2 linked regions of the Homo sapiens genome follow. The protein of the gene in region 1 purifies or fractionates together with the protein of each later gene. This does not show direct contact. Each region holds a gene or a part of one and is shown on either strand. Other genes may lie near its edges.

Evidence for each region. Proteins that work in one complex are often made in the same cells at the same time.
Region 2: the proteins of ZNF677 (region 1) and SFSWAP purify together in Homo sapiens (affinity purification with mass spectrometry; one large-scale study listed by BioGRID and IntAct). This does not show direct contact.

Annotation. Positions count from the first base shown.
Region 1 is NC_000019.10:53,252,074-53,256,222, forward strand, and holds the start of ZNF677 (zinc finger protein 677), read right to left. Parts: upstream 2,801-4,149; 5' UTR 2,761-2,800; intron 2,751-2,760; exon of another isoform or gene 2,526-2,750; intron 1,084-2,525; 5' UTR 1,013-1,083; intron 1-1,012. UniProt on the Homo sapiens protein: May be involved in transcriptional regulation.
Region 2 is NC_000012.12:131,714,090-131,717,589, forward strand, and holds part of SFSWAP (splicing factor, suppressor of white-apricot homolog), read left to right. Parts: coding exon 1-151; intron 152-732; coding exon 733-864; intron 865-3,500.

The DNA.
Region 1 (4,149 bases):
AATAAAACTTAAGACTTACTTCTGATGTAGAGATAGGGAGAAAGAATAAAAAGCTGAGAGAGAAGCAGCTCTCCTATCTCTAACCCTATGCCCCGACCCCTTTCCTAGTAGTTTCCATCATTTTTGGAGGTCTCAGAGTCATTTAAGACTAACTGTAACTGGGCACCCTCTCTCAAAAAATTGCCACATGCAGACACATGCTCAATCCTGAAAATCATTTCAGGGATCCCATCGGCTCAGATTCAGAATTTCTGGTATACCCATCATCTCCACGTTACAGGTGGGCACACTGAGCCTCAGAGAGAGGAGATATTTCACCAAGTTACCTGGAAAAGGTCTGAGTTGAGTGAGCAGAACTCAGTTGTAAATGAATGTTGAAATGGTGGCCTGGATAGGGCAGTAGCAAAGGTTTGTCCTTATTTCCAGATCACCATTCACATTCCTGAGTAGAAACTTCTATTTCATGGGTTTAATTGATCCCAAGGATTTAACTCTTTTCCAGAAAAATATTCAAAAATATGAAATTACAAATAGCTATTACTCTTGGAAAGCATGAAAGGGGGTCAGCTGTGGAGATTAGTGCTGAGTAATCTCTTCATTATGAACAGACGGGCTCTGTTGGAACAAAATTCCACACCAATCCAGGCCATTCTTCAACATCTTGCAGAGAAAGGACAAAGGGGACCTGGAGGAACATCTACTTAGTGGGAGGCTTTTAGATGACATAAGGGAGTAAAGAAACTGAATACAGCTGAGCCTTGAGCAACACCAGTAGTGATGGGGTGCTAATCGCACCCCACCTCCAGTCAAAAATCCAGGTATAACTTTTGATTTCCCAAAAACTTAACTACTGATAACCCATTGTTGACCAGAAGTCTACTGAAAACATAAACAGTTGATTAACACATATTTTGTATGTTACATGTATTATATACTGTATTCTTATAAAAAAGTAAGCTAGAGAAAAGATAATGTGATTAAGAAAATCATAAAGAAGGGAAAATATATTTACCATTCATTAAGAAGAAGTGGATCATCACAGTTCATCTTCCTCGCATCCTCCCCGAGGTCATATTGTGTGGGCTGCAGTGGAAAAGGAAGAGAAGAGGTTCATTTTGCTGTGTCAGGAGTGGCAGGGGTAGAAGAAAATCCCCTGTATAGTTGTACCTGCTTAGCTCAAACTGGTGTTGTTCAAGGTCAACTGTATTAAACTAACTGGTTAAACCAGATTTTAAGTGGTAAAAGATTATCAACACCTTAGAGTGAAACACTGTGAAATCAAGTACCAGACATAAAAGAATAGTTCCAATATATGATAAAAAGTAGAAAGCATTTAGGCCAGGCGCGGTGGCTCACGCCTGTAATCCCAGTGCTTTGAGAGGCGGAGACAGATCACCTGAGGTCAGGAGTTCGAGACCAGCCTGGCTAACAAGGTGAAAATCCCGTCTCTGCTAAAAATACAAATTCACCGGGCATGGTGGCGCATGCCTTTAATCCCAGCCACTCGGGAGGCTAAGGCAGGAGAATCGCTTGAACCCTGGAGGCGGAGGTTGCAGTGAGCCGAGATCAAGCCACTGCACTCCAGCCTGGGTGACAGAGTGAGACTCCGTCTCAAAAAAATAAATAAATAAATAAAAGAAAGCAAAAGAAAGCATTTAAACCTCATAAGCTGAACAATACATTTAAGAGAAAATACTTTGAAAATTTTTTTTAAATCCAATAAATTATGGAATTACATTTAAGACAAGTTGAATACACGTCAAATTTAGAAAATGACACAAGCCACACACAAAAAAGGAGGGAATAATATTGTTAATGTCTGTTTGCAAAAGCAGCATACGGTGTCACAGTTTCTTCCCATTTCTTGACTCTCCTCAAGATCAGAGAAAGGGAAGAGGGTGAGCTGGAATTAACTGAGCTAAGTCAGTTAACCCTCTGGCTGAATAAGGGTTGCTTCTGATGTAATAATTAGAAAACGCAGAAGCCTCACACCGTAGTTTTGCAATTTTCATGCTCTTCTGCACAAACAATGAAGCAAATTTTAAATTAATTATAGAGCCATACATCAGTACTTCACAACTTAATGTTCCATATTAAATCAATCCACACTCACATGGATTTGGGTGCCCCCCCCTTTCTCCACCATTATGTGATTTTTTTCCCCCTCTCTATAAATGTTTCTCTTCCACCTTCTGTTTCTTTCCTTTTCTTTTTCCCATTTCGGCGTTTTCCTGTCCCTTTCTGCTCATTTGGCTTCCCTTCCTCTCCTTCTCTGACAGAGTGTTTGGCCCCATCCTGGTAGCATCCTTTTTTTCAGTCCCTGCTATTGTTTCTGATGGCTCTCTAATTTCGCGCATTTCTCCCTCTTTATCCTCCATTTCTGCTTCCCCTCTGTTCTCCCTGGAGAAGGGCGAAGGGTGTGTATCCACCCCGAGTGAGGGCTTTACCAGGGGGAGGGAAGAGGGAGTCAGAGAAGAGTTTTAAGCAGAGAAACGACGCGGTGGGCGGTCGGTGTCCACACTGACCTAAAGCAAAAAGGTCGGGGCCAGTACCCACTTCAGAACGATTTTAATCCGAAATGGACGCAGATCTCTAGACCCTCTCGGAGCGACGGGACTGGGAACGTCTTAGGGCCACGCCGCGAGAGGAATGAGCAGGTTCGGGGTTTTAACCTACAGGGCGACCCCAAAACCCGACAGCGGAGCGTGGGAACCTGTGGCCCGCGAGGCGCAGGCTTGAACCCGAAAGACGGAGACTCACCCGAGAGCGCCAGTAGCCCCGCGAGATCCGCTTCCGGGTCGGCAGGAACCTGCGCGTACGCGAGTGCACTGGGGCGGCGCAAGGGGCAAGGGCAGGGGCAGGGCGCGGACAACTGTGGGGATGGGCGGGCAAATGGCGGGGATGGGCGGGGACAATGGCGGGATGGGCGGGGACAATGGCGGGATGGGCGGGGCCTAGGGGTCGGACTGCCGGACCTCTCCTCGGCGCGTCCCAGCGACTTTTTTAGGCCTGTTTGTCGCCCAGCAGTACTCGATTCTTCACTTTTGGATTCCCTTGAATCTCTATGGTGTCCTTTGGAGCCTAGCTAAGTAAAAAATTAGAGACCTGTGGGCCCCTTATATTGGAATCGGAGCTTAAGATGGGAAAGGTTTGCTTGAAAACGTTTCTGCGAGCGATGGAGGCGCGTCCTGCGACGAGGCGGGAGGAGCGCTGGGACCTGGTGGATGGGAGAGGGCGACGGTATAAGGAAGCTCTTGGATCCAGGAACTTCTGAAATCCGGACGATTAAAATTTGTATTTAATTAAGCGAAAGCTGGAGTTGTCTGCGTAGGTGATGGAAACTGGAATGAGATGCATTTTTGTGCCTGTGCGGAGTGTACAATTTTATATTGACTTTCACTGGAACGTAATTTTTATTTCCGCTCCCCAGTCACCCAGGAGGCAGAGATGCACCATGGGCTGAGTTCCAGAGAATTTATGGGGTCAGACCCTGGGCGGTGGGGGGTGGAAGGCTGAGGCTTGGCTTTAAAAGAACGCAAAGTTCTGCTTGTATCGATCTAAATTTATTTTCCTTTATTATCCTAATGCACATTTCTTGAGATAAATTACAAATCCAAGTGCTGGATTTATTGGAGTTGGTATGTTGTGTTTTGTCTAAGTTATTAATTACTAATATACTATCGTTATTATTATTTTTATTATTATTTTGAGATGGAGTCTCTGTTTCCCAGGCTGGATTGTAATGGCGCGATCTCGGCTCACGGCAACCTACGCCTCCTGGGTCAAGCGATTTTCCTGCCTCAGCCTCCCGAGTACCTGGGACTACAGGCGTGTGCCACCATGCCTGGCTAATTTTTGCATTTTTAGTAGAGACGGGGTTTCACCACGTTAGCCAGGTTGGTCTGGGACCCCTGAGCTCATGTGATCCGCCCACCTGGGCCTCATGAAGTGCTGGGGTTATAGGCGTGAGCCACCGCTCCTGGCCTTTAGTCTGTAAAGTCTTTATTCTCAGTTATTTGGAAGAGTATTTTTAACATAATATGTGCTTGGCAATTCTCCTGGCCAACTGAATTGATTTCTCTTGGGCCCAGAGAGGAAACTTATTGACTGGAGGCTCCCCAAGAGAAGATGAGCCCATATGGGGGTATC
Region 2 (3,500 bases), on another chromosome or scaffold:
CTGCATGACCTTTCTGAGTACGATGCTGAGTATTCCACGTGGAACAGAGATTATCAGCTGTCTGAAGAGGAGGCGCGAATAGAGGCCCTGTGTGATGAAGAGAGGTATTTAGCCTTGCATACGGACTTGCTTGAGGAGGAGGCAAGGCAAGGTACTGCTCAAGACAAACTTACTTCAGCAACAAACTTTTTAAAATTTTTAAGTATTTAAAAATTTACTCCCATTCATTTTTTTATACTCACTCTTTCTGATATTATCTTGACAGTACCCAGTGGATTGGAAAAACAGGAGTCTTTGCGTTCTGAGAGGACCTCAGGATAGTTTATATATAGAGCCACAAAGAATTTTCCCAGCTTTTGAGGGCAGACTGGGATTTGAAAAAAACAAAAACCAAACTCTTTAACTGTTCTTCTTTAACAGTATCGTATAAATAAAATTGATGTTCTTGTCTTTGCCGTAACAGTCTTTAATACAGTTCTTAATCCCAAAATTTTCTCAGCAGGAAGAAATTTTCCACAAAAGACGTGTATTCAGCTGTCTGTGGGTAAACATGTACTGACAAAAGTACATAATGATAGATATAAAGTGTGAATTTTTAAAACTATTTTACCTCAAAAGTAGGTTGAAAAAAGTATGTTGTATGCTTTACTGATAGCTACAACTTTAGAAATATATAAAGTTTTTCTCAGTAATTTTCTATTTTTGTTGATAAAATTCTCATTTTTATTCAAGAGGAAGAATACAAGCGATTGAGTGAAGCACTAGCAGAGGATGGGAGCTACAATGCCGTGGGGTTCACTTACGGTAGCGACTATTACGACCCGTCAGAGCCGACGGAGGAGGAGGAGCCTTCCAAACAGAGAGGTGAGTGGGGAGCTGCCTGGACTGCTGGTGTAGGGCTACACGTGTACGCACAGGCTGCATGCACCGTGGTCCAGTCTGCAGAACACATCTCTGGCACTCATGATAGCACCACTATGACCACAGGAGAAAACGGGAGTGATATTCCTTCTTTTGGTAAAACGAAGTTAAAAACTAGAATGATTAATGGAGGTGGAAAGTGAATGCGTTGGATTATTTATTTCTCATTGATTCGGGTAACAGAATTACTCATTCAGGATTATTTGTTTCTAGATTGGTAACATGTTCATTAATATCCTCAGGGATTCATTCTTGAGGCAGTGAAAGAATAGGTGTTAACTGGGATAAGTTAACATCACCGCCCTCTCACTGACCTGCTTCCCCATATCCCTCCACAACTGAGACAGTGACACATGCCCAGTGGAAGGACACAGTGAGGGAGTTTCTACTCCCCAGAAAACAGCACAGCTTCCTGGTAGCCTTGATGCCACCTAGGGCATATACTTACCACAGTATTTTAAATTAAAGATTTGGAATTTATGCTTTTCTGGATTAACATGGGAAACTTTGAATATAAAAAATAGTGCTGCTGAAAAACCTGGGCTCGTGTAGTATAGACACAAATATCCTCAATCACTTCACTAAGCGTCGAGAGCTCCACTACCACAGCGCTGCATCATGGTCAGTCGTTAATTAGCAGTAATGCTAACATGAACCTGACACCTTAAAGACGGGTCAGTATATTCAGGATATTCTGTTTAAAAAGAAGAAGAACATTAACTTAGAAACATTCAAATGTTTACATTACATCAAATGGAGATTTAATTGTAGAGCTAATTTAATCTGTTATTCTGAACTTCATCGGTTTCTCCTTAAGTAACACTTTTTATCTTTTTAAATTTTTTTATTAAAATACACAATAATTTAAAAAAAGAGATGGGGTCTCACTGTGTTGCCCAAGCTAGTCTCAAACTCCTGAGCTCAAGTGATCCTACTGCCTTGGCCTCCCAAAGCACTGGGATTACAGGCATGAGCCACCACATCCAGCCAAGTGACACATCTTTTAACAAGTATGAAGCAATTATAGCACTTTAGTAGTAAAGCAAAATGATGTTTGCCCTTCCATCCTGTGACTGCACTATGGTTCTACCCATCGGCACTCTCCAAGGGCTGCGATCCTAACGGAATGATAGGACGTGGGGCAAACGCACACACCGGCTTTCCTTTTGCCCTGTCTTTAGTCCTGCTCCTTACTTTGTGGGCACAAGAATTACTGTTGCACAGCTCTATTTTATGAGCTTTTAGAGAAACTTTCAAGTGTAATTGTAATTATACTGAGTTAAAGGCCAGTTAAGGTATTTAAGACTTTTTGCATTGACTTTCAAACCTACCCATCCCTCAGAAGTTACGATGCACTAGAAATGTTCTATCAGGTCTAAAACGTAAACACCCATTTATTTATCCAGAATAAGCTCTCCTTCCTCGGGTTCTGGATAGTTCTGATTTTGTTGTCTTATCTCTAAGCCACACACATGAGTTCAGCTTTCTATCTGTGGTGTTTTTATCAGAAGGAAGGAATAGATACTATAGCCACTTCACAAATAAAGAGTTGAAATACAGTCAGCTTATTGGGTCCACATCTGTGGATTCAACCAACCACAGATCTAAAGTATTGGAAAGAAAATAACAAAGTTTTATTGGAACACAGCAATGCTCATTTGTTTACATATTGTCTGTTGCCACTTTCGCACTTCAGCAACAGAGTTGAAGAAATGAAACACCATATGGCCCACAAAACCAGAAATATTTATTAATACTGTCTGGCATTTTATAGAGTTTGTCAGCCCCTATTCTAGATGATGGACCATTGTCTCGGCGTAATTATTGGGCTAAATGATGTTCAGTTTGTTATAATTATTGAATCTTGAGAACTTCAGCATGACTTAGCTTATCATCTGAGTATTAGTTTGCTTTCCCCTTAAGATAAAGTTCTCTTTAGTATTTTACAATGTTACTTCTTTTCTTTCTGTAATCGTGTTCTCAGAACATTGCCTTATATACTGATTAATTTCGTTAATGGAAATTGGGCCCACATAAAACTTAGAGCTTGACATTTCGTGTTTAACTTGCATTAATATAAGTGAAACACCTAACACACACACACACATACGTGCATATTGTAATAGAATCCAGTACCACTAACAGCCCCATTGAGCGTCACATTCTGTTAAAATAAAATTTTTTTTCCTGAGCCATCAATATGTCTACGTATGTCTTGATTTTCAAAATTACTGTATTGTATTGTTTGTTAGTATTTTAAAGCCTTGTGATACTAGCCAAAAGCATTTTGATGGTGCCTCCATCTCTGATCTTTACTATTTTCAGTCAAGTTTTTATCCTTTAGATGTTCATAATTTTTCATCATTATTCTATATCCATTTTTTTCCCTCTTTTTTAGGGGAATAATGGGGCGGGGACAGGCCCTCACTGCTATATATCCATTTTTTAAACAAAAGGTTATTTGAATTTATTTAAATCTGAGTTTGTAGTGCAATGGTTGGTTTTTATTTTGTGCTACTAAAGCTGTTTTTTTGTAAATAAAGGTATATATAAGAATAGACCAAATCTGTTTAACCCAT